3 linked regions of the Homo sapiens genome follow. The protein of the gene in region 2 purifies or fractionates together with the protein of the main gene of each other region. This does not show direct contact. Each region holds a gene or a part of one and is shown on either strand. Other genes may lie near its edges.

Region 1 (9,828 bases), on a different chromosome or scaffold from region 2:
TAACAAAAGCCCAGCCCTGGATCAGTCCAAGTGTTTACCCCTTGTGAGCCTACAGCCAGGCTTCCTAATGCTGCTAGAAGAAACCTCACGCCTCCACAAGCTAATGCTGCTAAAAGATGGCCTGTTCCCTAACTGGGTCCATAGGTCTGTCCAGTAATCCTCACAGGCTTCACCTCCTTTCTCTTCCCCAATCTGCAACCTTGGCTTTTTAAAACTTTCCCTTTCTTTCTAAAACTTTTATTTTTCCGTCTACTTCATTGAACAAGTAGATGCCATCATAAGAGAACTTCCTCAATTTTCTGTTACTGTATCTAAAAACTATCCTAAATCCACGCCAAGCTTTTTGTCTGCCCTTTGGTAACAATAGAAGAGGTATACTGCTTCCTTCTAAAGCTAATCCTTCCATTTTTACTCTGACTCCCTTCCCTGTCCTTAGGGCTGCCTGCCCTTAGCATTTAACCAAAACATTCAAATCTTTCCCATCTTTGAAGAAAACTCTACTTCATATCCCCCTCTAGCTGCATCTTTTTCTTTCTCACTGTCTCTGGGTCTTCTATTTTCTCCTTAACCCATTGCATTTCTGCCCTCACCAGTCCACTGAGACCCTCACCAATTCAAGGCTTCCTTTTCAGTCCTAGTCTTCCTTGACCTCACAGCAACATTTGGCCCCTCTCTATCCTCTCTTGGTTCCAACCATCCTGAACACCTTTCAGTTTTCTAAATGTGATGACTCTTTTGCTTTCAGGCTTTTGCAGATGCTTTTCTTTCTGCCTGGACTACTCTTCGTCCAGTCCCCACCTTCTTTGCCCAGCTAACTCAGGTCCCACCCCTACATCACTGCTTCTAGGAAACATTCTTTGATGTTAACTACCTACTGCCTGTAAAAGATGGGTTGGGTGCCCCTTCTTTATATTTGCATGATTTAACCATGTCATGGGGTCAGCAAACTTTTCTTGTAAAGGACCAGATAGTAAATACAGTTGACCCTGTAGATCTGCAGGTTCTGAGTCTTCAGGTTCAACCAACTCTAGATTGAAAGTACAATATTCAAGGGAAGTGGAACCAAGGCCATAGCCACAGATTTTGGTAGCTGCAAACAGGGGAGTTGGTCCTGGAACCAATCTCCCGAGAATACCGAGGGACAACTGTACTTTTGACTGTAGGTCAGTAGGCAAAATCAAGATTATTGTAAAAGTATGTGTACAACAAGAAGGAAGCAAACTTCACAAAATTTTATTGTTGCAATCTAAAACATAATACCATATAATTTTTTTGTAATACAGGTCTACTAATGAGAAGAACAGAATTGGTTTTGGGGGAGTAACATTTCATTTCATCGGAGTTCAAGTTAGCATTCCTAGTCATCAGAATCAGTTGTGGATGTTCATCTGTTAATGCTGATCTGTAATGAGATTTTTATGTATTATACTGAGTTCATTTTTTTATATGCATATCACAATTCTGTGTGATATGAAAGGGAAATAAGTGAAATATAAGGAACGCGTAACTCCTGTTCTCATGGAATTTATAATCTATTTGGAAAATTATCATTGCAATAGGAGAGCCTCCTTAATGACGACAAGCATCACTGCTTTAGGAGAGATATGGAATAGTTCATTACATGTTCCCAAAATAATTTTTTGAGATTATTCATAGTTCAGAAGGATATCTATAAAAAAGTGAAGCCAGACATGTCCTTACTTTTATTAGGGGGTCTGTATTGTGGCGTATACTGACTGACACTTTTAATATTCTTCTCTTTTTTCTTGAGACAGAGTCTCACTCTGTCACCAGACTGGAGTGCAGTGGCGTGATCTTGGCTCACAGCAACCTCCGCCTCCCGGGTTCAAGTGATTCTCCTGCCTCAGCCTCCTGAGTAGCTGGGACTACAAGCATGTGCCACCACGCCCAGCTAATTTTGGTATTTTTAGTAGAGATGGGGTTTCACCATGTTGGCCAGGATGGTCTTGATCTCTTGACCTCATGATCCGCCTGCCTTGTCCTCCCAAAGTTCTGGGATTACAAGCATGAGCCACTGCGCCTGGCCCCTTTTTTCTTTTTTATATCGCCATCTCAGTATTCTATCATTTCATGATGAAATAGTTGTTTATTTTGAACAACTCAAATAGAAATTAATGGTACTATGTGCTGAATGTTACTTTTTTATACTATTTTTCCGTGATTATTTTTAAAAGGCCAGGTTTTCTTAGATGAGTTTTATCTTCATCTGCTTATTATCTTTTTAAAAAATGTATATCTCGTTTGTTTCTTTAAAAATCCATGGCAATTTTTTAGTTGTAATAGCACCAGGTGTGGTGGCTCATGCCTGTAATCCCAGTGCTTTGGGAGGCCAAGGCAGGAAGATCACTTGAGGCCAAGCGTTCAAGACCAAGCTGGACAACATAGTGAGACCCTGGTCTCAAAAAAATAAATAAAATAAAATTTAAAAATTATCTGTGCATGGTGGCAAACACCTGTAGTCCTAGCCATGCAGGAGGCCGAGATGGGAGGATCGCTTGAGGCCAGGAGTTCAAGGTTACAGTGAGCCATGATCACTGCTTTCTAACCCAGGCAACAGAGCAAGACTAAATAAATAAATGAGTGAATGAATACATAAATAAAAGGTATGTGTGTACGTTATAATACCAAGAACAGCACATATTTAGACCATATTACACATCTAATTGCTTAAAATATATAAAAGAATAATAAAATTTTTTCTTGATACAAACCTATCCAAAATTGGCCAATAGTATACAATTGATAAATTACATGGATAGCAGTCACATATAAGAAGAGAAAGAAGCAGAAGAGGAAAAAACATATCTTCCCTCTTTAATGTACTTAGAATCAAGAAGATGAAAAGAGCCAATCACTCCTGTGGGGTCACACATGAGGTTAGAGGTCACATATAGTCTCTAAATTATAAATAAATTGGGGAACACTTACATACTAAGACATTAAGTCTTCTTTAGTAAACCCTAAACAGCAGTTGGAGATAGGAATCCCATCCATGATGCTTGATGTTTTCCTTTTTGCTGTAACGCAGCATGCCTTAGAGTTATTCTTTTCTAAGGCATGTTATTACCTGTTCTATAGTAATGCACCAAGAGAGATAGGAAAAATTTTTTTGAAATAGGCCAATGATTCCAAAACTAGCCTTAGTTTCTCCCCTGAGCTTTACACTGTAATAATGTTTGGCTATGTCCCCACCCAAATCTCATCTTGAATTATAGTTTCCATAATCCCTACATGTTGTGGGAGGGACCTGGTGGGAGGTAACTGAATCATGGTGGTGGTTACCCTCATGCTGTTCTCGTGATAGTGAGTTCTCATGAGATCTGATAGTTTTATAAGGGGCTTCTCCCCCTTTCTCTCTGCACTTCTCCTTCCTCCTGCCATGTGAAGAAGGATGTGTTTGCTTCCCCTTCCACCATAATTGTACGTTTCCTGAGGCCTCCACAACCATGCTGAACTGTGGCTCAATTAAACCTCTTTCCTTTATAAATTACTCAGTCTCAGGTATTTCTTCATAGCAGCATGAGAACGGACTTACACACCCTATACACCCTAGTATGCCCAAGTACCACTGATAGCACCACCTAAATTTTTAAGGCTGTATGAAACTTAAAATGTGAAAAACAAACTCTCAACTCTCCCCTCCCAGCCTATTTTCTTCCCAGCCTTCTCCATATTAGAGAATACCATTGCCCTTCACCTGCCTAGCTAGTCAGGCACAAAACCTAAGACCTATCCTTGGTTCCTTTTTTTTTTCTTCTCACCTCTAACATCCAAACCATTAGCAGTCCTCTTTGCCCTTACATCAGAGTATGTTGCAAATCAAACCTTTTTTTTTTCTTTCTTTTTTTTAGATGGAGTCTTGCTCTGTCGCACAGGCTGGAGTGCAATGGCGTGATCTTGGCTCACTGCAACCTCCACTGCCAGAATTCAAGCAATTCACCTGCCTCAGCCTCCTGAGTAGCTGGGATTACAGACGCACACCACCATGCCCAGCTAATTTTGTATTTTTAGTAGAGACAGGGTTTCACCATGTTGCCCAGGCTGGTCCCGAACTCCTGACCTCGGGTGATCCGCCCACCTCGGCCTCCCAAAGTGCTGGGATTACAGGCGTGAGCCACCACACCTGGCCCACACCATTTTTTATCAGCTTTCTAATGCATATCCCCTGTTGCTGATCTCTCTTGTCTATTGTCCACAAGCTGACAGTTTTTTGTTTGTTTGTTTGGTAATTCATATCATGTCTGTCCTGACCCACAACCTCCCAATGACTGCCTGTTGTAATTAAAATCCAAACTCCTGCTGGATGTGGTGGTGCATGCCTGTAGTCCCAGGTACTCAGGAAGCTGAGGCAAGAGGATCGCTTGAGTCCAGGAGTTCTGGGCTGTAGTGCGCTATGCATTCTGGTATCCACACTAAGTTCAACATCAGTATGGTGACCTCCGGGAGTGAAGGACCACCAGATTGCCCTAAGGAGGGGTGAACCAGCCCAGGTCGGAAACAAAGCATGTGAAAACTCTGGTGCTGATCAGCAGTGGGATCGCACCTGTGAAAAGCCACTGCACTTCAACCTGGACAACACAGTGAGATCTCGCCTCTTAGGGAAAGGGAACAGAAAAGGGAAAGGGAAAGAGAAGTCCAAACTCCTTATTGTAGCCTGTACTAGCATTTATTGAGCACTTGCTATATGCCAAAGACTTTGTTAGGTGTTTTGCATATATTAACTGATATAATCTTCACAACAGTCCTGTGAGGTTGAAACTATTATTAACCTCATTTTACAAAGCAAGAGTGTAATAGGAAGGTTAAGTAACTTATCCAAATCACACAGCTAGTAAGTGGCCAACCTGGAATTCAAAGCACAGAGTCTGCCTCCAAAGCAAGAGTCTGGCCCCTTTATACCATCCAACTTGATGTCGTCATTTTGCTTTTCTTTAGCCACACTGGCCTTTTTATTCCTCAAGCACATCAGGCTTGCTCCCTGCATAGGAGTTGTGCACTGGCTGTTCCTCTGTCATCTCATCATTTAAGTCTCCATTCAAATGTCTTTTTCTCAGAGAGATTTTTGCCTTACCACTGTCTTTAAAATTACCCTCCCACATATACAGTGTCACCTTTTTCCTATTTTCATAGTAGCATTTACACTATCTGAATTGATCTTAATTCTTTTAATGTTTGTTTCTCTAGAAGTATTTACTTAATAACTGTTGTTGGATGGATGGTTGCTGACTATTGAGTATTGGCTAGTATAGTGGTTAAGGATATAGGCTTTGAAATCAGACTCCTGGGTTCATGTCACAGCCCCACTACTTAGTTGTATGAAGTTAGGCAAGTCACTTAACAATTCTTGGCCTCAGTTTCTCCATATGTAAAATAGAAATAATATCTCCCTTATAGGATTGTTATCAGAATTAAATAGAATAATGTGTATGTCTCTTAAAACAATTCATAACACCTAAGAACTCAAACCATGTTATTTGTTATTTATTTATTACACTTAAGTTTTTGTAGTAACAAATATTACTATTACTATAATATTGAATGAATGGCATACCCAGAATACTCTTTGGAAAATCATGTTTCCAGGCCCTCCTCCAGGCCAACTGGGTTAGAATATCTGAGAAAAGGGCCCATGAATCTTTTAAAAATACATAGATTTTAGGGAGTCTGATAAATATCCAACCTTGGGAACTATGATAGTAGGCTTTTAGCATCACTATTTAGGATCAACCTGGACAGTTGTGTCTGTGTGACATCATCAGTGACATCATGACACTGCAGTGACACCATATAGTAATTTGTAATTTTGCTGAGATGTAAAGTGAGAGCAAGTCATTCTGATAAGTGGACCTAGAAGACCCTTACCACTCTCCCTAACATCCCCATTACAGTGCAGCCTCATTCTCTTCCCTGTATCTCTGTTGGCAAGCAGTAAAACTTAGAGTGACTCTAATTTTATTTCTGCTTGGAAAATCATCTCAAAAAGAAAACTAACCAAGAAATATGGGGATGCCAGGAAAGATTTTTTTTTTTTAAGTAGTGGTTCTACCGTAAACTGTAAGAAAAAAAAAAATCATGAAGCCATTGGGGTTTTTTTTTGTTTGTTTGTTTGTTTTTTTGTTTTTTTTGGCAGGTGCACCAACCAATGCAAAAACTGCACATTATCAAGGAAATTACATGCTATTGCTATATCTATAAGTTCGGGTTTATAAGTTCAGATATTAACAAAGCTTTTGTGAATCTCATGAAAGAGATTGTGTAAGACATGATTTCTGCCTTCCTAGAGCTGGAAAGACAAAACCACTGTACACAAACAACAGCAATTGAGATTAAAGTGAATAATAAATGATAGACAGCCAGTGCTGTTTATTTCAGAAAAGAAAGTGAAAAATATCAGCTAGAAGGGTTCATTGAAACAGTAGTGGCTAGTGATGACAAACAACAAGTGTTCTTTAGTTGCAGGACCAGCTCTGCCCCCTAATTATAAAAGCAGTAGTTCAGATTCATCAGACAGCGATGAAGACAGTAGTTCTTTGTACGAAGAAGGAAATCAAGAATCTGAAGAAGATGACAGTGGTCCAACTGCAAGGTCAGTCATTTAATTAAATTAAATGATAGACCAAACTTCAGAGCTAGTATAAGTTGGCTGGAACAGATAGCTAGTAAGGGGATATCATATTTCCATTTATACAGCACAGGGAGAAATCATTTTGTGTGGCATTTCATCCTGAATTATACCTTTTACAAAGAAATTTATTCTAGTAGTTTGCAGCTATAGAGATATCTAGAATTTCAATATATATGTATATTTTTTCCTGAGACAGGGGCTCACTCTGGCGCACATGCTGGAGTGATGTGGCACGATCTTGGCTCACTGCAGCCTCTGCCTCCCAAGCTCAAGCGATCCTCCCACCTCAGTCTTCTGAGAAGCTGGAACCACAGGTGCCCGCAAATTTTTGTATTTTTTGTAGATTTTTTGGTATTTTTTGTAGAGATGGGGTTTCATCATGTTGCCCAGGCTGGTCTCAAACTCCTGGACTCAAGTGATCTGCCCGCCTCAGCCTCAGAAAGTGCTGGGATTACAAGCATGAGCCACCACACCAGCCAATAAAATTCTTACATAAATGATTTTTCTTAAGATGTCATTGAAGTGCCAAAATAGGCTACATAAACCATAGAATTTCTTATTAAAATTATATATGCAGTGTATGTTTTCTTTAAATAAACTAATGGTTTTCTTTTTTTTTTTTTTTTTTTTTTTTTTTTTTGAGATGAAGTCTCACTCTGTAGCCCAGACTGGAATCCGGTGGCACGATCTCAGCTCACTGTAGCCTCTGCCTCCTAAGTTCAAGTGGTTCTCCTGTCTCAGTCTCCCAAGTAGCTGGAACTACAGGTGTGTGCCACCATACCTGGCTAATTTTTGGATTTTTTAGTAGAGACAGGGTTTCACCATGTTGGCCAGGCTGGTCTTGAACTCCTGACCCCAAGTGATCTGCCCGCCTCGGCCTTTTAAGGTGCTGGGATTACAGGCATGAGCCACTGTGCCCAGCTGAATGATTTTCCTCTAATCTGGCCTTACCCACTATGAGTCTATGTAAATGAGAAGTCAAATCTTTGTTTATTATTGAGTAACAAGCTTTTTTGATTCATTTTAAATATTATCAGGTGGAAATAGCAACTTAAAACCCTTCCTTAGATGAGAATAAAAGTCACAGTCATAAACTTTTTACTGAGAAACATCTGACCAATAGACTTTGAAACTGCATTGAGGGGAATCTTTAATACCACAGAAAATATAGAATAGTGATATATTACTGCTGTAAAGAAATAACCAATCTGTATTTTAGGCCAAAAATAAATTCCAGGAAAAGACTAGTTACGAACTATTGTCGTAGGCCAGGTGCAGTGGCTCACGCCTGTAATCCCAGCACTTTGGAAGGCCAAGGTGGGGAGATCACTTGAGGTCAGGAGTTCGAGACCAGCCTGGCCAACATGGTGAAACCCCGTCTCTACTAAAAAATACAAAAATTAGCTGGGCGTGGTGGCGCTTCCCTGTAATCCCAGCTACTTGGGAGGCTGAGGCAGGAGAATTGCTTGAACCTAGGAGTGGGAGGTTCCAGTGAGCCAACATCACGCCACTGCACTCCAGCCTGGGCAACAAGGCAAGACTTCCTCTCAAAAAATAAAAAAAAAAAAAGAACTATCGTAGTATCCAGTTTTTATTTGGCAGGATTAATTTATTGTTGCAGTGTTTATACAACTAGATTTAATGCTTTTTTAAAAAAAATTAAAATGTGCTTTTGTGAAAAAAATTTTGACATATATGCATAAAGTTATACTACTATGTTTTCAGAAAACAGAGGAAAAATCAGGATGATGACGATGATGATGATGATGGGTTTTTTGGACCAGCCCTTCCTCCTGGATTTAAAAAGCAGGATGATTCTCCTCCAAGGTGATAATGTGTAATATTTTAGGCCAGTCTTTCTTTAAATATTTTAACTAATGAATCTTTAATGAATTAAAGAATTGTCTGAAATTATGTTTTAACTGAAATATTTATATAACATTTTGAAATGGGTCATTCACCAGGAAAAGAAGTTGTTTCCTACAATAAAAATAATTATTTACATGTTTATGACACTTTCATAGTTTACAAAAAACTTCCACATCTGTTATTTGATATTCACAAAAGTGTTTTGTGGTAAACGAGGTGGATCACCCCTCTCCCCACTTTATAAACAGATAAGGTCACACACATAGTAGCAGACCTGGAGCTAGAATCTTGATGTTGTGACTTTTAATTCAGTTGTTTTCTTAATTATTTATCAATAGAAGAAACACATCCCCATGTGCCATGTTAGACAATTGGACTAACTTCTCTGAATCTTAAATTTGTTATCTGTAAGCTAGGATAACAGCATGTACTTTACAGAATTGTGATGATTGAGGTTTCATAGTTACATACCTTGACTTTGTGTGTGGGTGTTTAATTTATATGGAGCCTGGCACAGAGTAAGTATATAGTAAATATTTATTCCTGTCTTCTTCCCAGAATTGTAAAATTTTTAAATGCCAAATATAAGATCGCACATCAAATTGTTTATAATTCATAATACTGTATACCAATATGCAAGAACAAGCAGAAAAGGCTTTTTATTTTATATTCAAAGTTTATAATCACATTTGGCAGCTCCTAACTTCCATTAACTTTAGTTGTTTCAGATATACAGGGATAGGCAATCTACAGTCCCCAAACTAAAAATGATTTTTGCATTTTTGAGAGTAGCTGAAAAAACAAAGACAGATATGCCACAGAGACCCACATGTGGCTCTCAAAGCCTAAGAGTTACTATCTAGCCCTTTATAGAAAGTTTGCTGACCCCTAGGATGTAACATTCCTTTTAAGAAAACATATTACTTAAATGTATACCAATTTTATTCTTAAGAATATTATTTTGGCAATAATAAAATGTATGTGTAAAATAAACAGCTGGCATTATATATTGGAGTTAGAAACCTTTTATAGTATCATAACATGCCATGGTTTTATTCCTTTACTATGTTTTATGATTTTATATACCAGTAATTTTATCACCACCAATCCCCTGAGGCCAGAAAGTTAAGCTATAATTGCATTTGTAGATTGCTAAAAATTGTACTCAGAAAAAACCTATGCTGTACTCATAGCTTATAAATGATACCTAATTTTATCTTTTTAACAGTGCCAAACTTCCCTGTCTTTCATAAGCAAATTGTTCTGCTCAAAGAAGTTTCATGAATCAAGACAAGAGATTATTAAATGGTCAG
Region 2 (10,815 bases):
TCCAATGACTCACATCACATCTTACTCAGAATAAAACCCAGTCTCTACCATGCCCTATAAGGTATCATATCTTATGATTTCCAGCACAGGTTCCTGCCTCAGGGCCTCTGTGTTTGCTCTTCCCTCCATCCAAAATGTTCTCCCCACAGTTGCAAGGTTCACTTTCTTACTTCATTCAGATCTCTTCTCCAATAATGTCAGAGAGGAGTTCCCTGACTTTTCTACTAAAATTCCATCCCCACACCCTTTTCCTGCTTTATTGAGAGCAATAATTCTGTCTCTTTGTTTATAGGTATCTCCCTAGAGCTTAAAAAAGTATCTGACACAAAACAGGTACTCAGTATTTGTTAAATGAATGAATCGATAAAAGAACCCAGGATTTTATTATTCTCAAAATATTATAAAGTCTTTCCTTCTTATTGATCAGACTACTTGCATCACTATAATTCAGACAAATATTATTTGTTCTTAGTGAGCAGTACATGTAAGTTATGAAAAACTCTACCAAGCCTAGGAGTAAAGGTTGGTTTCTGGTCAATTCCACACATGTGTGTTTGAGGAAGGCAGGCGTTGTCACCAGAATCAACCAACACAGACCTTAGTAAGTGGAAAAGAGAGCTCTGGCTGCCTTATCACCTATTTACGACAGAGACTTCAGAAACTAATGCTGGCTTTAGAAAAAAAGACGAAAAGGAGAAAAAAAAAAGAAAACATAAACTAATGTTGGCTTAACTGTACCTGTCCCTGTTGGGTCACCTCCTTGGATCATGAAGTCTTTGATAATTCTGTGGAATTTTGTGCCATTGTAGTAACCTCGACGAGCCAACTCAGCAAAGTTCTTACAGGTCTTTGGAGCATGCTTCCAGTACAGCTCCAGCACAATGATTCCCATGCTGCAGAGGGAGAGGACAACAGCTCCAGTAAACAAAAAGGTCAGGGCAGACAGGAGTATTATGGAACTGCTCCAGGACTCTTGATTTTCAAGCTTGTAAGTCATGAAATTGTGATAACCACTGGATTTCATGCTCAGCAAAGGAAAACACCACAATGCAAGTAACATAAACACCCATTATCTTTTTTGAGTAAAACACGCAGGTGTTCTGGGTACTTCTTTTCAGCAAAATAACAAGCATGGAGAACTCAAAATTCTAATACTATACATATATACATATGTATATATATATAGCTATATCTGATTATCTGAAACCAATATAACCAACCCCTAAATTAGGAAAAAAATTCTTACACTTAATTTTTAATTTTTTAAAAAAAGAGACATTAAAATATCAGGAGTTCATATTTATTTAGAAGTTTCTGGGTGGGGGTAGGGACTGGGTAGATGGAAAATAGGAAGATGTTTAATGAATACCTTTTAAAAACTTTTGTATTTTTGATCCATGTAAATACATTACCTATTCAAAAAATTTCAATAAAAGGTACAGTTTGTGTTTGTTTGGGAGGGAGTATAACAAAGGCAAAACCTGGTAACTTTGAATCTTTGCACCTACCCAATAGGATGAGTGCTTTTTCCTCACCAGTACTACTAAAAGATAAGGAAGAGGCAAGAGAAAGGACGAGTGCCTTCCCCTCTACTCCAGCACATACCTAGACTTTAAGCTCCAAGGATGTGACAATTTTTTTTTTTTTGAGAAAGGGTCTCCTCTGTCACCCAGGTTACAGTGCAGTGGCACAATCTCAGCTTATCGCAACCTCCACCTCCCGGGCTCAAGTGATCCTCTCACCTCAGCCTCCTGAGTAGCTGGGACTACAGGCATGCATCACCAAGCTCAGCTAATTTGTTGTATTTTTTTGTAGAGATGGGGTTTCACCATGTTGCCCGGGCTTGTCTTGAACTCCTGGGCTCAAGCAATCTACCTGCCTTGGCCTCCCAAAGTGCTGGATTACAGATGTGAGCTATGGCACCTGGCCAGATGTGAGAATTGAGTCAACTCTGTATAGTCTGGATACCCAGTGCCTTGCACAGTGTAAACACTCTATAAGTATATGAGGAGTGTGCTAGAAAATAGCTAACAGCCTTTCTGCCTGAAATTCATCCAATTCATCTTTCACACTGCTCCCATTCAACACAGATTGACAGTTACTCTGTGTGTGGTACTCTTTCCCTCATGAAGCTTACATTCTGGAGGATATTTTCAAAATACAGAAAGTAGCCTTTTGGAAAGACAATCAGGAAGTACGTATACAATTCTGAAATGTGCATACCTCAGTAATTTCAACTTCCAAGTATCCTCTAGGAAAATATACAAAAGTGCCTAAGGATACAATATGTGCAAGGATGTTCATCTCAGTATTTGTCATAGCCAAAAAAAAAGGAAGCAACTTAAATGTCCTTGAAATAGGAAATGCCTAAAATATCAACTATCCATACTATGGGCAGCTACCTGAATTACTGAGTGAAAGAAAACCAAGTTACAGAAAAAACATACATACAGTATGATCATATGATCCCATTTTTTTGTTAAAAAAACATGAGAGAGGTTTATATGTACATAGAAAAAAGTCTGGACAATCATCCAACAAACTGTTGATGGTGTTTTCAGGAAGGAGGTGACTTTCACTTCTTACTCTGTATGTCTACATTGCTTGGATTTAACAATTTATTTTGTAACTTTAAAAAATACCAACAGGAGAATTCAGAAATTACAGGTTGGAGCCTGAAGATGTAGAATTTTGCCATATAAGGTGGGGAAGATGGCCAGGGAGCATGAAATGAACAGCATGAGCAAATAGAGAGAGGACTGACAGAACTCTGCTTTAGCTGAAAGCAGCAATGGGCAAGAACAGAAAGGCAGAGGACCTTGGCTGGTCCCTGGCTGTTGAGGGGAGAATGGCAGGTAGACAAGGGCCAGATGAAAAAAATCACCTTGAATGTCAGGATTAATACGTTTTTACTTTATACTGTTATAGCAGCAAGACGTTATTAAAGGTTTTTTGAGCAGGATCCCTTCCTTGTCCTACTTTGTAAAGATCACTTTGAGCTTTTTCCAAAGAGGCAATGGAATGAATAGAGCTAAAGGATCTAGCAAGGTGAGACGAGCACACCAGGCTCCAAACGAGGTTCTTCCAGTTACTAGCTGTGTGGCTTTGGTCAAGGCTTTAAGCTGTAAATTCCGGCGTTTCCTCCTGCTAATATTGAAAGGGAGAAAGTTAAATAATACCTTCATGATTTGAGTTGCTAAGATTAAACTAAATGAGATGACATACAGCGGGGCATGGCGCCAGCAGGTTGGTTACCACATCACTCTTTGATAGTGGGGAAAATGTGCTTCTTCCTGTATTTTACTGGAATTTGTTTCTACAACTGTATTACTTATCACGTAATGTTTACATGTCTGTCTCTTTCATTATACCGTAAGCTCCTAAAGGCAGGGCTGTCTGTGTTTTATCTACCTCTGTATCCTCAGAACTCATATTCCATATGCCTGGCTTGCGGACTCATTACACGTTTGTTGAATGAATGAATGAATGAATGAGCGGACTGGGGGAAGGAGGACAATCAGGCAGCTATTGCTGAGACCTCAGCACAAGACCCCGCGGAGCTTGGACGCGGGCGATGGCGGTCCCCTCTCAACCCTCTGGGGGCCGTCTCGGCCGCTGCTCCACGCCCCTCCACGTGGAGGCCGGCCTCCCGGAGGAACGCGCCAGGAACGCAGACCCGTGGTGAGGCCCGGGCTCCGCGTCTCCTCTGCCAGCCCCAGACGCCCGAACCCCCTCACCTGGTCTCCAAGTAAACGTTGGGTGGCTGCCAGGAATCTGGGGGAATTGCCGCCATAGCGAAGCCGGCGGCGGAATGCTTGTCTAGTAATTGCTACTTCCGGCGTCGATTAGCTGGGGACCCGTCGCTGCTGCACACTTCCGGTCCGTTCAACCCTTTCGATACCAGGATTTGGGTGGCCAAGACAAGGAAGAGGACGGTCCCTTCTTCCAATGCCGGGAAGCTGGGGTGGGAGACGAGAAGAAGCTGGGCTCAAGAACAGAGGAAAATGCAAACTTCATTCGCGGTGGTCTCCAAGTGGCGATACCGCGCCACTCTGGGCGATCTGATTGGTTCGTTTAGGCATGGAAGGCGGGAACAACCAGAAAAGCTGCGCTCTGGTTGGAGTTATGTCCTAATATTAAATTCGAAGAATTTCTTAGTCTCACAATTGGGCAGGGACGGGAAGGGGAGGCAGAGAATGAAAGAGGGTAGTTTAGAGATGCCAGTAAAGAATTTTTGTAAGGCGCTGTACGATGTACACAGTGCTTGCACTTTCTTATCTCATCTACTCCACAAAACAATTCTATAAGTAGATAGTATTATTACCATTTTTCAGATCTGAAAATAGACTCGGCAGTTAATACTTGTTTTTCCATAGTCATAAAGCAAATCTGAGCCTGCAGAATCCAAAGACGAGGAGTCTGAGGAGAAAAGAGAGGGAAGGGGCAGGAAGAAAATAGGAGATAAAGAAAGGAAGAGACAGGAGAAAACAGGACAAACGGATCAGAGCAAGAACAAGGCTTAACATTGGCTGGGATAGATGGTACCTGAAAGTTGTTAGGAGGGTTTGCGCAGGGCGCGAGGAACAGAAGCAAATTAGAGGAGCTATAATGTTTGGAGGGAGGACAAAAATGAAATAGAGTACCTAAACTTAACGCTGTAAATGCTTTGCACACCACTTAATAATGATGGTTGAATGTTTACCATGTGCCAGGCATCAAGCTAAGCATTTTATTGCGTATTTTCACGCTTAATCTTCAAAATCCCACAAGGTAGATATTACTATTCCCATTTTACTTTGAGGAAGCTGAGCCTTACAGATTAAATAACTTGCTTAAAGTACTACAGCTGGTGCACTTGTGCTCTTAACGACAGTTCAACTGTAATGTCCCTAATTGTCAACAAGGAATAAGGATGTACAAGGTTGTAAAGATAAACTAGACAGCTCCTTGAGAGAGGAGCTGGGCCTCCTTCATCTTTGTGCTCTTCTTGCACAGTACAGAGCACAGGGTGCTCAGCTTTGCTGAATGAATAATGAACGGAACACTACATTTTAAACTGATAAATGCTAAAGTATAATTTTTACACCTCCTGCAGTTTCAAGTTCATGCCCACCTTGTGGCCCTTGAGCTGGATGAAAAAGTCTTAATCCTTGGTCTGTTTAGTCTGTTGTTAAGTTGCCTTTCTCTGGACTTTATGTAGTTCTTTACTGTGTATCTCGGGAGTCATGTGCCATTCCCAGGCTCCAATGTCTGAATATTGAAAAGCCACCCCCAAGATCATGATCACTTTCTTCCTAAATCTTTTACTGCAGCTCCTACCAGTCACTTGGCACTGAGGAGACAGAGATGAGTCTCACACACACAGTGCCCTGCCCTAAAGAAACTCACATTCTAGGAGAGATGGGCAACTAAATACGTAGCTGTAGGAGCGTGGAATGAGGACTGTAATAAGAAGCACACAGTAGGTTGGGTGCAGTGGCTGACACCTGTAATCTGGCACTTTCGGAGGCCGAGGCGGGCAGATCATCTGAGGTCAGGAGTTCAAGACCAACCTGACCAACATGGTGAAACCCTGTCTCTACTAAAAATACAAAATAAGCTGGGCATAGTGGTGCATGCCTGTAATCCCTGCTACTTCGGAGGCTGAGGCAGGAGAATCACTTGAACACGGAAGGTGGAGGCTGCAGTGAGCAGAGATTTTGCCTTTGCACTCCACCCTGCACAACAAAAGTGAAACTCCATCTCAAAAAAAAAAAAAAAAAGAAGAAGAAGAAGAAGAAGAAGAAACACAGTTTTCCCTGAGCTCTGGTTACTCCAGAGTAGGTTTGGACAGTCAAAAATTTCCCCTGGAGTGACAGCCTGGGTTGAGATCCAGAAAATAAATTGGAGTTAGCCAGAAGCCATGAGGGGTCAAATCAAATCAAGAAATAAAATGTCTCCAATTCCTCAGAAGCCCCCCTACTAATCATTACCCATTCCTTCCTCCCAAAGGGTAGACCACTTTCTGCCTTCTAATATCATAGATTGGTTTTCCCTGTTTTTGAATTTTATATAAATGGAGTTATAAAGTACGTATTTTTTTGTGCCTGGCTTCCTTTCCTTAACAATATGTTTGTGAGATGTATTCATGTTGTATGTAGTGGCCATTTTTCATTTTTCCTTGCTGTGTAGTATTCTGTTGTACAAACATACCACAATGTATAATGGTGCTGCGATGGATATTTTGTGTATGTATCTTAGTGCACTTGTGCATGAATTTTTGGGAGTATATACCTAGAAGCAGAATTGCTGTGTCATAGGTAACATGTATAATTTAGTAGTTAACACTAGACTGTTGCAAAGTGGCTGTAGCAATTTTTTGTTTTTTTTTGAGACACAATCTCACTCTGTCGCCAGGCTGGAGTGCAGTGGCACAATCTCAGCTCACTGTAACCTCCACCTCGTGGGTTCAAGCGATTCTCCTGCCTCAGCCTCCCGAGTAGCTGGGACTACAGGCGCATGCCACCACACCCAGCTAATTTTTGTATTTTTAATAGAGACAGGGTTTCACCATGTTGGCCAGGATGGTCTCAATCTCTTGACCTTGTGATCTGCCCACCTTGGCCTCCCAAAGTGCTGGGATTACAGGCATGAGCCACCACGCCTGGCCAGTGGCTGTAGCAATTTATGTATGCACCAGCAGCCTGTGAGAATTGCTGTTGCTCTGCTTCCAAGCCAACTCTTAGTATTGCTAGTCTTTTTCATTTAAGGAATCCTGAAGCCTCTATAACAATATCTCAGTAGTAATTTCACTAACAACTAATGACTAATGAAGTTGAATTCTTTTTCCATATGTGTGCCATTTAGATATCCTCTTTGTGATACCTTTTTGTGTTCAAATCTTCTACCTATTTTTCTATTTGGCTGTTTTCTTATTTGTAAAGTTCCTTATATATCCTGGACAGAATATAACACTGGAAAGTTTCTAATTTTAATGTAGTCCAACATATGCATTTTCTCTCTTACAGAACATGTCAGTGTTGGACAGACATTATTGGACATCTCAATATTGCAGCTCTATAATTCTGTTTTGTTTTTATCATATAGATCTGCAATGCATCTAGAACTTATCTTGGTGTATGGTATGAGGTAGGAGCCAAGTTTCATTTTTTTCTATATGGATATACAATTGACCCAGCACCATTGATTGAAAGCATTATCTTTTCCTCACTCCTCTGTTTCACCTCTTTGTCATAAATCAAGTGTCCATATATGTGTTTTCTGGTTTTGGTCTCTCTATTCTGTTTCATTGGTTTCATACATTTATGTCACTGTCACACTACCTCTGTAGCTATAGCATTAGTCTGAACCCAGTAGTATTTTGTTTGCAGATTTCTTGTAGAAAGCAGTTAAGAGATTTGGCGCTACACACAGGGCAGGTTAAGGAGTCTGGGTTCAAATGCTGATCCTTCCATTCCTTATCTGTAAAATCTTGAGCAAGTTAACCTCTCCATAAACTTCAGTTTTGTTTGTATGAGGATGTTATGGGGCTATTTATGCCATAGGGTTGATGAAGTGGCTCCATGAATTGAAAGTGCTTAGTACAGTCTGTCACAGTGTTAAAGCAAACTAAATATGGCCTGAGAAGGGCTTTGTACTTCTATATTTGAGTCCTTGTGGATGAACTATAACCTAGCTTTATAGTCAGACAAATTTGAAAACTTAACTTAATAGTATATACCTGTAACAATAGCTGAATGTTGGCCAATCCCAGCGGCCATACTTCAACAACTCATAGACTGCCGAATGTTCAAATTGCATTCAAATAAGGCAAACACTGAGCTTTAACCAATCTCGCTGTTTCTGTACCTCACTTCCTATTGCTGTACGTTAGTTTACCTTTTTGTCTATAAATTTGTTCTGATCACGAGTCACCCCTGGAGTCTCTGTGAATCTGCTGTGATTCTGGGAGTTGCCCGATTTGCGAATCATTCATTGCTCAATTAAACTCCTTCAAACTTAATTCAGCCAAAGTTTTTCTTTTATCAGATGGTGTCAGGAATGGGATCTAAAGTGGAGCTTCTAGCGACCCCCAGGAGCACTGAGTGAACATGCAAGGTACCTGCAGGATCCACTTGTGTCTATTGATCTCTCACAGCAGCTGGGGATCACAGGTAAGCTCCCTCTCGGATCTCTCTTTCCTTTCCCTTTTTTATCTTTTCTATTACTCAGGGCAACCAGCTTGCCCAGAGATCACGTGTTGAAACCCCTAGTCAGACATTGGATTAAAGATAACGGGGCCCATCTGAGGGCAAATATAAACCTTGCCAGTTTGATATTGAGTGCTAAGCAGAGTGGCTAATGTCTGTGTTTTATCACATGTATTTTGCTCTGGCCGGAACAACAACAAAAAATTTTTCCTTTATGATGCGGCTTGGCCCCCAGTGTGATGGTGTGGCAAGCTGGGTCACTGGGGCCGCTGAGGGAAAGGGAACCCAGAAGGCTGGCATGCCAGCAAAAGAGTAAGAATTTCTTACCAGTCAGATTTTTGGCTTCTCTCTCTCTGTGCAAATGGTTGAATGAATGGTAAAAATCACTGTTTATTTATCTCTTCTCTAAGGTTTTGATTAATGCAAAAAAAATTCTGAGGTTAGTCTTAAACTGATGTATTTGTGCTATGAATTCGTTTTTCTGGGTCAAGGGGTACCTTAGGATAAAACACGGGCTTAGGACCCCACAAGCTCGCTGGTCAATAACAAACTTTCCTGCAGGTCCCTGAAACACAAAAAAAAAACTGGATGGGGTCTCCATCTTGTTTTATGTCCTTGGGAACTTGACCTCGTAACCACGTGGCAGTACTTTCTCTTGGTCTCCACCTTCTAGGGAACAGGGATTTTAGGGTTTATGCCATAGTTAGCTCTAAAAATTATCCTGAGTCATTAAAAGCCTCTGCAAGCTCAAAATTAACTACTCTAGACTCCTTCTGGGAAGGGCAGTAGACTGCTCTGTGCTGTGGCTCACTGGCCTTTCACACTGGCGGTTCCAGTTCCATTCCCTGCTTAGGAAGTAAGTCATTTCTGATTTAATATCTGCATAACCTTCTCTAGTCTCTTCTCCTCCACAGACTATCTTAAATTTTCCTTCCTCGAGCACCTAGGAAGTTACCTTTGGTAAAGTTCAAAAGCCAGAAATATCAGCCATTTGGCCTGGGTAAAATCAGTAATAAGAAATTTAAAAGGACTTTATTAAAGAGTGCTATGCTTAAAAGTCAGGTTAATTAAAAAATGAATATTCAGGCTCTAATGGCCTGGAATCCATGGGAAAAACAGGAGGCACCAGAAACCCTTTTCCTGGCCCTGTTCCTCCAAGGACTCCACCATAAAGCCAATAACCAATTAAGAAACTTAAAAACTGGCAAAAGAAAAATCTTACAACTACTATAGTAATCTTCTTCTGCCTGTCTGTCTAATTATATATGTATTGTGTGTAATGTTTATATAAAAGAGCTCAAATTAATTGGCTTAAACAAAAATAAGCACTTAAATATTTTGAAAGCAAAATAAAAACTGTAATGCCTCTTGGTTCATGTAACTTTAGTAATCTTTGGGAAATAAAAACAACTTTAAATATTATTGATAAAGACATTTTGTCTAAATTATGCAGGTCAGATATTAGCTTTGCTATATGCTTCAAGGTCATAAACTGCTTTGACTTTTGAAAATTGTTCAATTTATTTTGGAGACATTAAATTCTAAATAAGGCCTGGGGATATATGGAATTAGCCATGCCCCCTAGCTATACAAAGGCTATAAAGAAAATAGATTTCATTAAGAAAGGATGTTGTATGGTAAATTCTTGTCCTAAAGTAAAATGACTGGTTGTTTAAAAAGAGGGATGTTTAGGGCAAGTCAGAAAGTCTAAACATGTCACACATAGTCTGTGTAAGTTGTGAAAAAATTTATGAAAAGGAATTCATGCCAGACATGTTGTACAATTTAAGGTGATTAGGCCTCCTAAATGCTTCATAAAATGCCACCATGACTCTTAACTGTACAGCCTGCCTGCTTTATAGCTAGGTAAGGCCTGGGACACCTGTAGTTAGATGCTGGAAAGAGTCGGACCTTTATCTGCATTTCTGTCTGGGTCCTGGGCTCCACACCTAGTACATAATTAAAATCCTTACTTACCAAGGTTTTCACCAAAAGTAAAAGTTGCTAAGAGTTAACATTGTAATATGTAATTGAGAGTACTGAAAAAATAGGTTTACATGCAAGGTGTGTAAGGAGAATGAAATGTGTTTTTTGTAAGAGATTATAAGAAAATACAGGAATGTAAATTTTTGCCTAGGTTAGAGGGTTAAAGGATTGTTTTAAATTAAATAAAGCTAAAGGTTTGAACAAGTTGTGGAAGGTTTATAAAAATTAATTATAGGGGCCAGGCACGGTGGCCCATGCCTGTAATCCCAGCACTTTGGGAGGCTGAGGTGGGTGGATCACCTGAGGTCAGGAGTTCGAGACCAGCCTGGCTAACATGGTGAAATGCCGTTTCTACTAAACATACAAAAAATTAGCCAGGCGTGGTGTTGCACGCCTGTAATCCCAGCTACTGGGGAGGCTGAGGCAGGAGAATCGCTTGAACCTGGGAGGCCGAGGTTGCAGCAAGCCAAGATCACACCATTGCACTCCAGCTTGGGCAGCAAGAGTGAAACTCCATCTCGAAAAAACAAAACAAAACAAAACAAAACAATTAATTATTAGGATTCTATGTGTGAACATATTGGCTAAAGTTAAAATGGCATTATTCAGTTTTTTTTTCCATAAATGGGACATTGGAATA
Region 3 (9,828 bases), on a different chromosome or scaffold from region 2:
GAAAGCTGGTGTGGCCAGATGAACATCATTAGTAGACATTCAGACAAGGACTAGTATCAGAGATAAAAAGGGACGTTTCATAATGACAAATGTGCTACTTCAACAGGTAAACATAACAATCCTAAAGGTATATATACATAAGAGAGCTCCAAAATACATGATGAAAAAACTGACAGACGAAAGGGATAACCAGACAAATCCACAATCATGTTTGGAGACTTTAACACTCTCTTAGTAATAAACAGAACCAGTAGACCAAAAAGAAAACAAAACTAGATCTGAAAAACATTATCAACCAATTCGATCTGACATTTGCTCTAACATCTGAAATACACATTCTTTTAAGTGCACTTGAAGCATATAACTAAATACAACCATAAAATGAGCTACAAAATAACTGTTAATTCCAAAAGACAAAAGATTCTTACAATGGATACTCTCTGAGGATAACAAAATCTTAAATTATAAAGCAACAATAGGATATCCATAAAAGCACAAAATATTTGGAAAGTAAATATCTCATTGTAAATAGCACTCTAAATAACAAAAGAGATCACAAGGGAAATTAGAAAATAACTTTCACTGAAAAGTAATGAAAAAAAAACAACAAAATAAAAACTTGGCTCTCTGAAAAGATTAATAAAATTGGCAAAGCCCTAGCATGAACAAGCAGAGGAGGAAAGAAAAGCAAAAACAACAACAGGAAAGGAAACAAAAATGACCAATATCAAGAATAAAGAAAGAGATATAACTACAGATCCCACAGATATCAGAATGGAAGAACATATTATAAACAACATTATGCCAACAATTTTAGCAACTCAGTATACTTACACAGTGAAATACTTCTAGGCAAACTCCTTAAGATCTCTTATCTCTTATTTTTAGTGAGGGCAAAACAAACCAAAAACAAAGCACCCAAGAGTTCACACTATGTGATTAGATAATGTTCTAATACTGGCAAAGCTAAGCATGGTGATAAAAGTAGAAAAGTGGTTGCAGCGGGGACAGCAGGTGAGCTGAGTGGAGGCGACTATAAAGGGACACAAAGATATTTCTAGGAGGATGGAAATGATCTGTGTCTTGAAGGGAGTAGTGGTTACAGGTGTTTGCAAACTGCCAAACTCATCACACTGTCTATCTAACACCTGAATTTTACTGAATGCAAATCTGCCTCAATGAAATTGATTTAAGAAAAAATTTTTTATACCACCACAGAAGTAGAATACAGAATTTAGTCAGAAATTTGTAAATTACTTTTGGGGAGATTAGTTTGTGCAAGTTACATATAAAATTGGGACAAGAATATAAAAAATATTTCAAAATATTTCAAGTTCATCAAAGAATACTTCAATTCTATTATATACCTTCTTAACAGAGTAGGAAGTATAAACTATAGGCCAGGAAGTATGCTACATGCTTTCATATATTATGCCTCACAAAGATTGTGTCTTTCATTCATGATAAAATCTAGTGTGTGCCTTGGGAAATAGCCATGTTACAAGTGAAAAAGCAATAAATCTGGAGCCAGAAGACCAGAGTGTTCAAATAGTGATACAGGTTATTTATTAGCTTTGTGACCTTAAACAAGTCACACAATCCTAGATTTCTTCCACTCCAGGACTGATGTGAGGACGAAGGAATATTGTTTCAATGTACCTGGTAAAGCACACCATGAATACGGTTTTATTACTCATACTAAGTGCTCAACAAACACTGCTTAAATGAAGAAATGAAGTGGATAAACAACATGAACAGAGAAACAAGCAGACAGGAAGAAATAAAGGGACATGTTTATAATCACATTTTTTTCTGTGGACAGGATGGGTGGAGGGTGGGACACAGCTTCCAAAGCGTGATGACCTAATACCACATTTGTATCATGAGTAGTAGGTGCTGTGCGTAGGACAGGGTTGGCTGACCTCCCAGAATGAATACACTTTCATTGTGACCAGGATAACAGCTGGGGTAACAGGTATCACAAGATTGGCTCCGATGTGACCCTGAGGAGTATCTCAGCTCCATGTGCACAACCAACAGCGTGGCTACCACAAAGTATGTCCTATAAGTGGCTGCTGTTATTCGTTTCCAAACTTTTACTTTGTTACCTGGGCTAACAATCACTTGTGCTGGCAAGCAGCATAAAGGGGGGCTACCTGTACACCAAGTAGCCTCCAAGGGGCTTTTCCCAGGTTCCTAAGAGGCACAGTGAGTCTTCTACTGTGAATCTTTGAAATGCCAACATCACTGATGAACAACTGTTCAAAGTGTTCCATCCCTTCTCATCCTTAGGTTTTTCTGAGATTTTGCTCTCAGATAACAACTGCAGATATTTTCTAGATACAGCAGTTGTGCCCAGAGCAACAGCACCATTGCTGACTAGTAGGCTGATTTTCAGTAGAGTTCCAAGGAATGATCTACTAGGCCTGACAGAGCACTCAAGAAGTACACAAGAATATGGCTGGCCCAGATTCAAGACCAGAGAAACCAGGTATCTTCATCCAAATATAGGGCCCCTAGAAGGACACCTAGAAATTCAACACTCAATCACAATGTCATGTGATAAGTTATATGATAGGGCTTTTACTTGAATGCCGTGGGGACACACAGAGGAGATAATGGGCCAAACAGCAGGGGGAGAAGCAGTGTCAGGGGAAATAATTCCTGAAAAAGGTGGTACCTGTGCTGAACCCCAAGATGTGGAGTTATTTGGGCAAAAGGCATTCCGGGCAGGAGGCACAGAACGTACAAAGACTCAAAAGGTTGGATGGCACCATCTGCAGAGAAGTGCAAGTAACTCTACCTGGCTGGAGAACATGGTGTGAAGGGAAAATGACACAGCAGAGGCACAGCCAGGGTCTTAGGAAGGACCTTTTTAAAATAAGAATCAAGGAATGTACACTTTACCATAAAGATGAAGGGAAACCACTGAAGGAATTTTAAGCAAGCAGTACCATAATAAAATTAGCATTAAAAAAAAATTGTGGTGACAGTGTGGAGAACAGATTGGAGGGGAACAAAAGTCAGGAAGACAGGGGAACAGCTGAAGTAATCCCTGTGGAGGAGGATGGTGGCCTAAGACAGCAGCACTTAGAATGGAGGGAAGATGTGTCAGACACAGCAAAGAGGTCTAGAGAGAACTCTCAAGGCTTCTTCACTGATTTATGTGAGGTGAGAAAAAGAAAGAACCAAGCATGACTCCTAGGCTGCAAGCTTGGATGTCTAAATGGATAGACCTGCTGTTCACAGAGATAAAGAATAAGTCAACTTATATTTGAAAGTATAAAAATCAATGATACTGCACTAAATTTTAAAACATTAACACAAACAAAAGCAGAGGCTGTCTCAGATAGTATGGATATATATCTCTGAGATAAATGAAAAGCTTAAATTCAGAGAGGAGTAAGTCAAAGAAATTCCTGTCTAACATATGTTGATGAGTGAATAATCAAAGAATAAAACAGAAGGCAATTCACTAACAAGAGAGCCATCTACTGCCTTATAAGCATAGTGCAGCAATGAAATGCCACACACACACAAAAAAAAATGTGGAAGAAAGCCAGGAGTTTTTGACCACTTCACATTGAACATGTTTTTACAAAATATCCGATTCCTCCCGCAAAAAAATTCCAAGTGGTTAGCACGTTTAATAATAGCTAAATGCTTTCACTTACTTAATTTCTCCTAAAAACATCAATTCAATAGAAAACATTATTTGAACATAAAACACTTACCTGCCATCATTGCTATCATACTGGCTTTATAGACATTAGTAAGAGTTCCAAGTTCTCCTGTCGCTAATATAGTTTTAAGATGAGCCTCCCCACAGGCCTTGCGAAACTGACGAATCTCATCATACAGGGCTGGGGAAGAAAATAATTGAGGCAGTTACAAAGCAGGCAAGTGATAACATAACTTGGCAGCCGTTTAGAGCTGGTGGAACCCATTTCACATTTAGGAAACATAAAACATTTGTCACTTTCTAAAAATCACCCCAATTTAACATTGCCTGGAGCATTCTGTTGCAGTTCACATCCTGTTACAAGGAATGCTTAGTTTGCTACCATGAAACCGTTTCTAAGCCCTGGCCTGAGGTCCAGAGACATAGAGCTTTTTAAATATCATAATGACATGCAAATTATAAATAATTTCTGTCTTGTCCATATGATGGTTGCTTCCAACAAAAAACAAATGTAGCTACCATACATACAGTGGTGTACCCCTTTGCAAAGTAATAAAAAAAAATCTTAGGTTCTTATTAATTCTTCCATTCACAAGTAATAGGTTCTTTGGTTGGATATAAAGCACACCTTTCTTGAGAGTTATGTTCATGACAATAAAGACACAGCAGCTTGCCCCACTGCCTGCCAGAGTATGTTTATATATCTGACTAAAAAGTGTTAGGCCTGGCCAGGTAGTGCTGGACGCATGTGTACAAAGCCATCTCTGCAGGGAGGCTCAGAGATGCTGCCTTAAATCTGTTAACCCCTGAGCCCATGACCCCAGTACCACATCTGGCTTTGGAGGGTTCCACATTGGGCCCAGATTTATTTCATATTTCATATTCAAGGTAACATTTTACATGAAAGGTAGCAGGATTTTAGTAAGCAAATTAGACCAAAATCATGTGTATTAAATCTTTAAAAAATTATTTAAGTCTTTTGTCAATGATACTAGTGAATTTTGGCTTTTTCAGGCCGGCCACTATCATTTCTTGAACTCAGGCTACTGCCATGGTAACAAGACCAAGGCTTTTTCTTTCCTTTGTATTTGAGTATCTTTCATAGGAAGTAGGTTTTTTTGTTTTTTGTTTTTTGGTTTTTGAGATGGAGTCTTGCTCTGTCACCCAGGCTGGAGTGCAGTGGCGTGATCTCAGCTCACTGCAACCTCCGCCTCTGGGGTTCACGCCATTCTCCTGCCTCAGCCTCCCGAGTAGCTGGGACTACAGGCGCCTGCCACCACGCCTGGGTAACTTTTTGTAGTTTTAGTAGAGACGGGGTTTCACCGTGTTAACCAGGATGGTCTCGATCTCCTGATCTGGTAATCCGCCTGCCTCAGCGTCCCAAAGTGCTGGGATTACAGGTGTGAGCCACGGTGCCCGGCCCATAGGAAGTAGTTTTATAAACATACAGAGTAAACCAAGCAGGAGGGAAACATTCATAATAAGGGTTGGGGTAAGCATTTCTTAAAGCTAAAATGAGAGTTCTATAATTCACAGGCTTAGTAAAGTACATTTAGAAAAATGAAAAATTAGTCTCAGTTAAAACCACAAGTTATAACAGCCAAATAAAGCTTGCCTTCTCAATCACAGAAAACATGAACTTGAAGCTCAGAAGTGAAAAATGAAGAGAAATGAAAGCAAATATTCTATTCCAAGATGCTCAGTAAGTTTAGAAAGTTTGTTACCACTGAGAGATGGTACCCACAGAAGGTTCAATAAAGAACAGACTATTTTCACAGATCCTTAATAACGTGCAGTTCTGAGTACTAGGGATGATCTGAGATGCCACACCACCTACCTTACCCTGCCCATCTACCTAACCTGGGAGAAAATCATCCTACTTATGCCTCCAATATGACAACCTGTGTAAGAATGTTAAAAATAGTAATAGACTATGGAGCGAAAAAAAAAATTATATTCTTTTAATTCAGAGAATGAATTGGATGGAATGACATTTCTTAAGTTATTGAATCTAAAAAAAGAAACTTGTTTTCTAAGAACAAGTGACAAGGAAAATCTTCTGATCTAAAAATCCAAGAACGCTAATCCAAGTTAACTTGTGATTTAATTAATGATTTTCTTCCACAAAATAGTGTTGTCATTAAAAGCAGGCTTTAGAGTAGGACAAATGCAGATTTAAAACCCAACTCCATCATTTCCTGTGGGACCTTAGGCAAGTTATTTCTGTCAGCATCAGCTCCATCCTTAAAGTGTCAATAATATTTACTTTACAGGGTTACCAGGAATGAGAGAGAGATATACAAAGTACTTTGCATACTGCCTGACATGTTATAAGCACTCAAAAAGTTTAATTATTAAGTTCAGAATTCTAGTAAAATGAATTTCCACTAAGTGTTGTGTTATAAAAGTCAAATCTTATTTCATGGCCTGACCCAGTTCCAGTAACCAAAGTTCTGTTGGATTACTGCTTACAATCAGTGAGCCATCAGACAAGGCTGGAAAGTATTTTATTACAGCAGTTGTTAAAGTGAACTTTGGCCTGTAAAACAAATTCTTAAAACACTGATCACGACCATATTTGTGAACAAAAAAACACCATCCTTTTTCTAGAGTACTACCTTCTGATGCCAAGTGAATTTCTTGAAGTATAGTTAAAATTAACCACGAAAACCAGAGGTATTTTATGATTCAGTCATTTGGAAGTTATACTCTTTAATCCATGATCCAAACAGAATGAACTGCAAGTGGTCACTTAGAGCATAACTGGATTTACAAATATGCAACCAATGTCTTCTCATTCTTTAACTGCCAATTTCTAAAATCATTTTACTGGCCTATTTTACCACATAACAGGATCAAGTTTTTCTGAGAAAATATCTTAATCTTTAAGGTTCAACAGGTGGAAAGTTGTCATTTCTTTCTGTTACCATTCTGCCCAAAATATATCAGAACAATTAAATCAAAAGTTATACCAAATCTGGTCTTTTTAAAATGTGACCTGGGCTCTATCAAGTGATTGCTTCTACTCAGGCCTTTGAATCTTAAAGAGTGAGGCAAAGATGAAAGAATAGTTAGATATTTTCTTTATTATTGTGGCATCAGCAATAGCAGGAGATCCAAAAGTCCAGTGTCCCAGGGGCCAGCCACCAGCCAACAGTGTGGTACCTGTGCTGGCCAGTAGGAGCAGCACCAGCAGTGGCCCTGGGCCCAAGCTCTTCCTGTGGCACAATCTGACTGTGTTCTCTGCTCCTTATTCCCTCATGGTCCTGCTTTTTTTCCAAGCAAGGCTTCCTACTTATTCAGTGAGCTTCTTTATGTCTTCCTAATATAATAAATTCCCTTTCAGCTTCACTTAATCAGAATTGGTTTTCTTCAACTCATGAATATTTACTGAAGAAGTATAGTATTGTAGACAAAAATGTGGATTCTCCTGAGTATATGGATTCACACCCCAACTTTACTACTAGTTTATTGTTTGATTTGGGTAAGTTACTTAACTCTAAACCTGTCCCATGTTCCTCATTTACAAAATGGGAATGATAGAAGTATGCACACCTCACGGAGTTATTTTCAAACAGGTTAACACACACGAATAGATAAGGACAATATCCAGCACATTGTTCATGCTCAAGGAATGTCAGTTCCTGTTTTCAAAGTTGTTGGTGGCAGCAGTGATGGTGTTCCTGTTATTATTCAGTGCTTATCAGGCTCAGATTACAGAGGGACTTACAAAAGCAGAGGACACCATGATCTATGTTCCTTGAAGAACATAAAATAAAACCTCTTTGGGCCCCTAAAAAAACAGTCTGGGGGAAACGGCTTACTATATATCACAAACAAGTTTGTTTTTAAGCTAAGAACCCATGCTACTTTGAATAGCACAGACTCTTGAGATAAGACATTTTTGCTACTTGCTAGTTGTGTAAACATTTAGGAATTATTCGATTTCTCTAAGCCTAATTACTTAGGGAGGCTCAGTTTGCTCACATATTTTTGTGATGATTAAATAATATATGTTGCTAGAATAGAACCAGGCATTTAGTAGGCAGTTAATCATTCAATACTAGCTTCCCATATTTTCCCTTATACACTTCCAGAAACCCAAAAATAACTTTAACGAACAAAAAATAGCAAGCACTGTCCTAATACTTATGAAAGCACAACTAGAATTTGCCAGTCTTACATATAAGAAAAAATAGACCACTTCACTCCAACACAAGCCATAGAAACCACAAAGAAGCATTATTAGTGTTTAGGTCGTTTTGAGGACTTTGACAGTACCATGATAGACACCTCAGAAACTAGATGAATGACATATGCTAATCAAAGTGGCTTGATGGCTGAAATGTAACCCAGTCAATCTCAAATTATGTCCTTTAACAAACTCAGCTGACACTTTCCTTTCAATACAAATAAGCCAAACAATGGAAAAACGAATGAGCAGGTTTTCCCCTATGTTGGTAGGAAAGGACAATGGTGGGGTATGGAGTTATTATAACTGCTGCTAGACCACATACACAGAGGAAATTACAAGTGAAGCAATAAGTTCAACAGATGCCCTTTCCAAAAAATTTTTCATGAGGAATAATTACTCTAAAGGATGAGAAATCCCCTACGTTTTCAAAGCCTCTTCCCTCAAAAATGCTCAGTGTTCTCCACACGCTATTTAACCATCCATCGTGAGACAATTTGCAGTTACCTCCACACTTCCCATGTGAAGCATGAGATGTAGGCTGGGTGCAGTGGCTCACGCCTATAATCCCAGCACTTTGGGAGGCTAAGGCAGGTGGATCACCTGAGGTCAGGAGTTCGAGACAAGTCTGGCCAACATGGTGAAACCCCGTCTCTACTAAAAAAATGCAAAAAATTAACCAGGCATGGTGGCAAATGCCTGTAATCCCAGCTACTCTCTGGAGGCTGAGGCAGGAGAATCACTTGAACCTGGGAGGCGAAGGTTGCAGTGAGCTGAGATTGCGCCATTGCACTCCAGCCTAGGCAATAAGAGCAAAATTCCATCTCAAAAAAGAAAGAAAGAAAAGTGAGATGTGGAGAGATAAATGACTTGCTCCAAATCTTACTGTGGGTCAGTTATAGAACAGAGAGGAGGAGTCATGTCTTCATACGTGGAATAAAACTGTATTTCCTCAAAATTTTCTGCCTCTATCCCAGCACACACACACATGCATGCACGTGTACACTCACTGCAGTTACAACATATTCCCAGGGAAATACATTGCAGTGCTTCGAGCAACAGATTCGTCAAAACTCAGAACGTAGAAGGATGTCAACTCCCTTCTAGTTCAAACTACTCACTTGACAGATGGGCATTAGAATCCTAGGACCTGGTTTTCATTCTTCTAGGGGAAAAAAGCTGCATAAAATGAAAAGTTCCAAGGTAATGCAGAAACATAAGATACTAAATTTTGTATAATACACTAAAAATGATCTCTAAATTGCTCTTTGTTCCAAGGTAATTCAGAAATATAAGATACTAAATTTTGTATAATACACTAAAAATGATCTCTAAATTGCTCTTTTAGCCCCCTGGATGGGAAGAAAACCAGGGTATGGTGCTACAGTAGAGTTCATATATTTGAATCAGGACTTCTCAGCCCTTGCTTGGCCGCTGATTAGTGGTGTTACTTGGGAAAGTTACTGAACCTCTCCAAGCTTCATTTTTCTCCTCAAGATTAGATAGGAGAGCTTTATTTTTACAGCTCAAACCCTTCTCAAATTCTGCCAATAAATATAAAAGTATTAAAACGGTTAGGAAGGTAATCAATCATTTTTCCTTCAGATCCACCTTTGATAATAAGCACACGTAAAATGATGGTAAACGTTGACTTACTCTAAAAGTTTAAGCTGTTATAATTAAGATGAAAGAGCCTCTTGTTGATTTAGAAAGATGATTCTGAACTCTATCTTTGGGAGCTCTCAACCACAGACAAGGGAGAGCAGGGATTTTCTCAGCCACACACTGCCAAGAAGGTGGAGAGAAACCTAGCCCCCATGTCACTGGGGCCTAGAGAAATTCTTGGCCTGCATGTTGCTACATCATGGCAACATGATGGAGGCGAGGTGAGGGGGACGTGCAGTCAGCTCTGGGGAAAGTGAAGGTCACCCTTACCAGCGAGGACTGAAAATTC

The links.
Region 1: the proteins of PPIL1 (region 2) and GPALPP1 purify together in Homo sapiens (affinity purification with mass spectrometry; 2 studies listed by BioGRID and IntAct, with this or other methods). This does not show direct contact.
Region 3: the proteins of PPIL1 (region 2) and DERA purify together in Homo sapiens (affinity purification with mass spectrometry; 2 studies listed by BioGRID and IntAct, with this or other methods). This does not show direct contact.

What each region holds. Positions count from the first base shown.
Region 1 is NC_000013.11:44,997,831-45,007,658, forward strand, and holds part of GPALPP1 (GPALPP motifs-containing protein 1), read left to right. Parts: intron 1-4,319; exon of another isoform or gene 4,320-4,617; intron 4,618-6,474; coding exon 6,475-6,607; intron 6,608-8,371; coding exon 8,372-8,473; intron 8,474-9,828.
Region 2 is NC_000006.12:36,870,980-36,881,794, forward strand, and holds the start of PPIL1 (peptidyl-prolyl cis-trans isomerase-like 1), read right to left. Parts: upstream 3,825-10,815; 5' UTR 3,794-3,824; coding exon 3,738-3,793; intron 989-3,737; exon of another isoform or gene 894-988; coding exon 739-893; intron 1-738. UniProt on the Homo sapiens protein: Involved in pre-mRNA splicing as component of the spliceosome. PPIases accelerate the folding of proteins. Catalyzes the cis-trans isomerization of proline imidic peptide bonds in oligopeptides. Catalyzes prolyl peptide bond isomerization in CDC40/PRP17.
Region 3 is NC_000012.12:15,976,343-15,986,170, reverse strand, and holds part of DERA (deoxyribose-phosphate aldolase), read right to left. Parts: intron 3,864-9,828; coding exon 3,735-3,863; intron 1-3,734. UniProt on the Homo sapiens protein: Catalyzes a reversible aldol reaction between acetaldehyde and D-glyceraldehyde 3-phosphate to generate 2-deoxy-D-ribose 5-phosphate. Participates in stress granule (SG) assembly.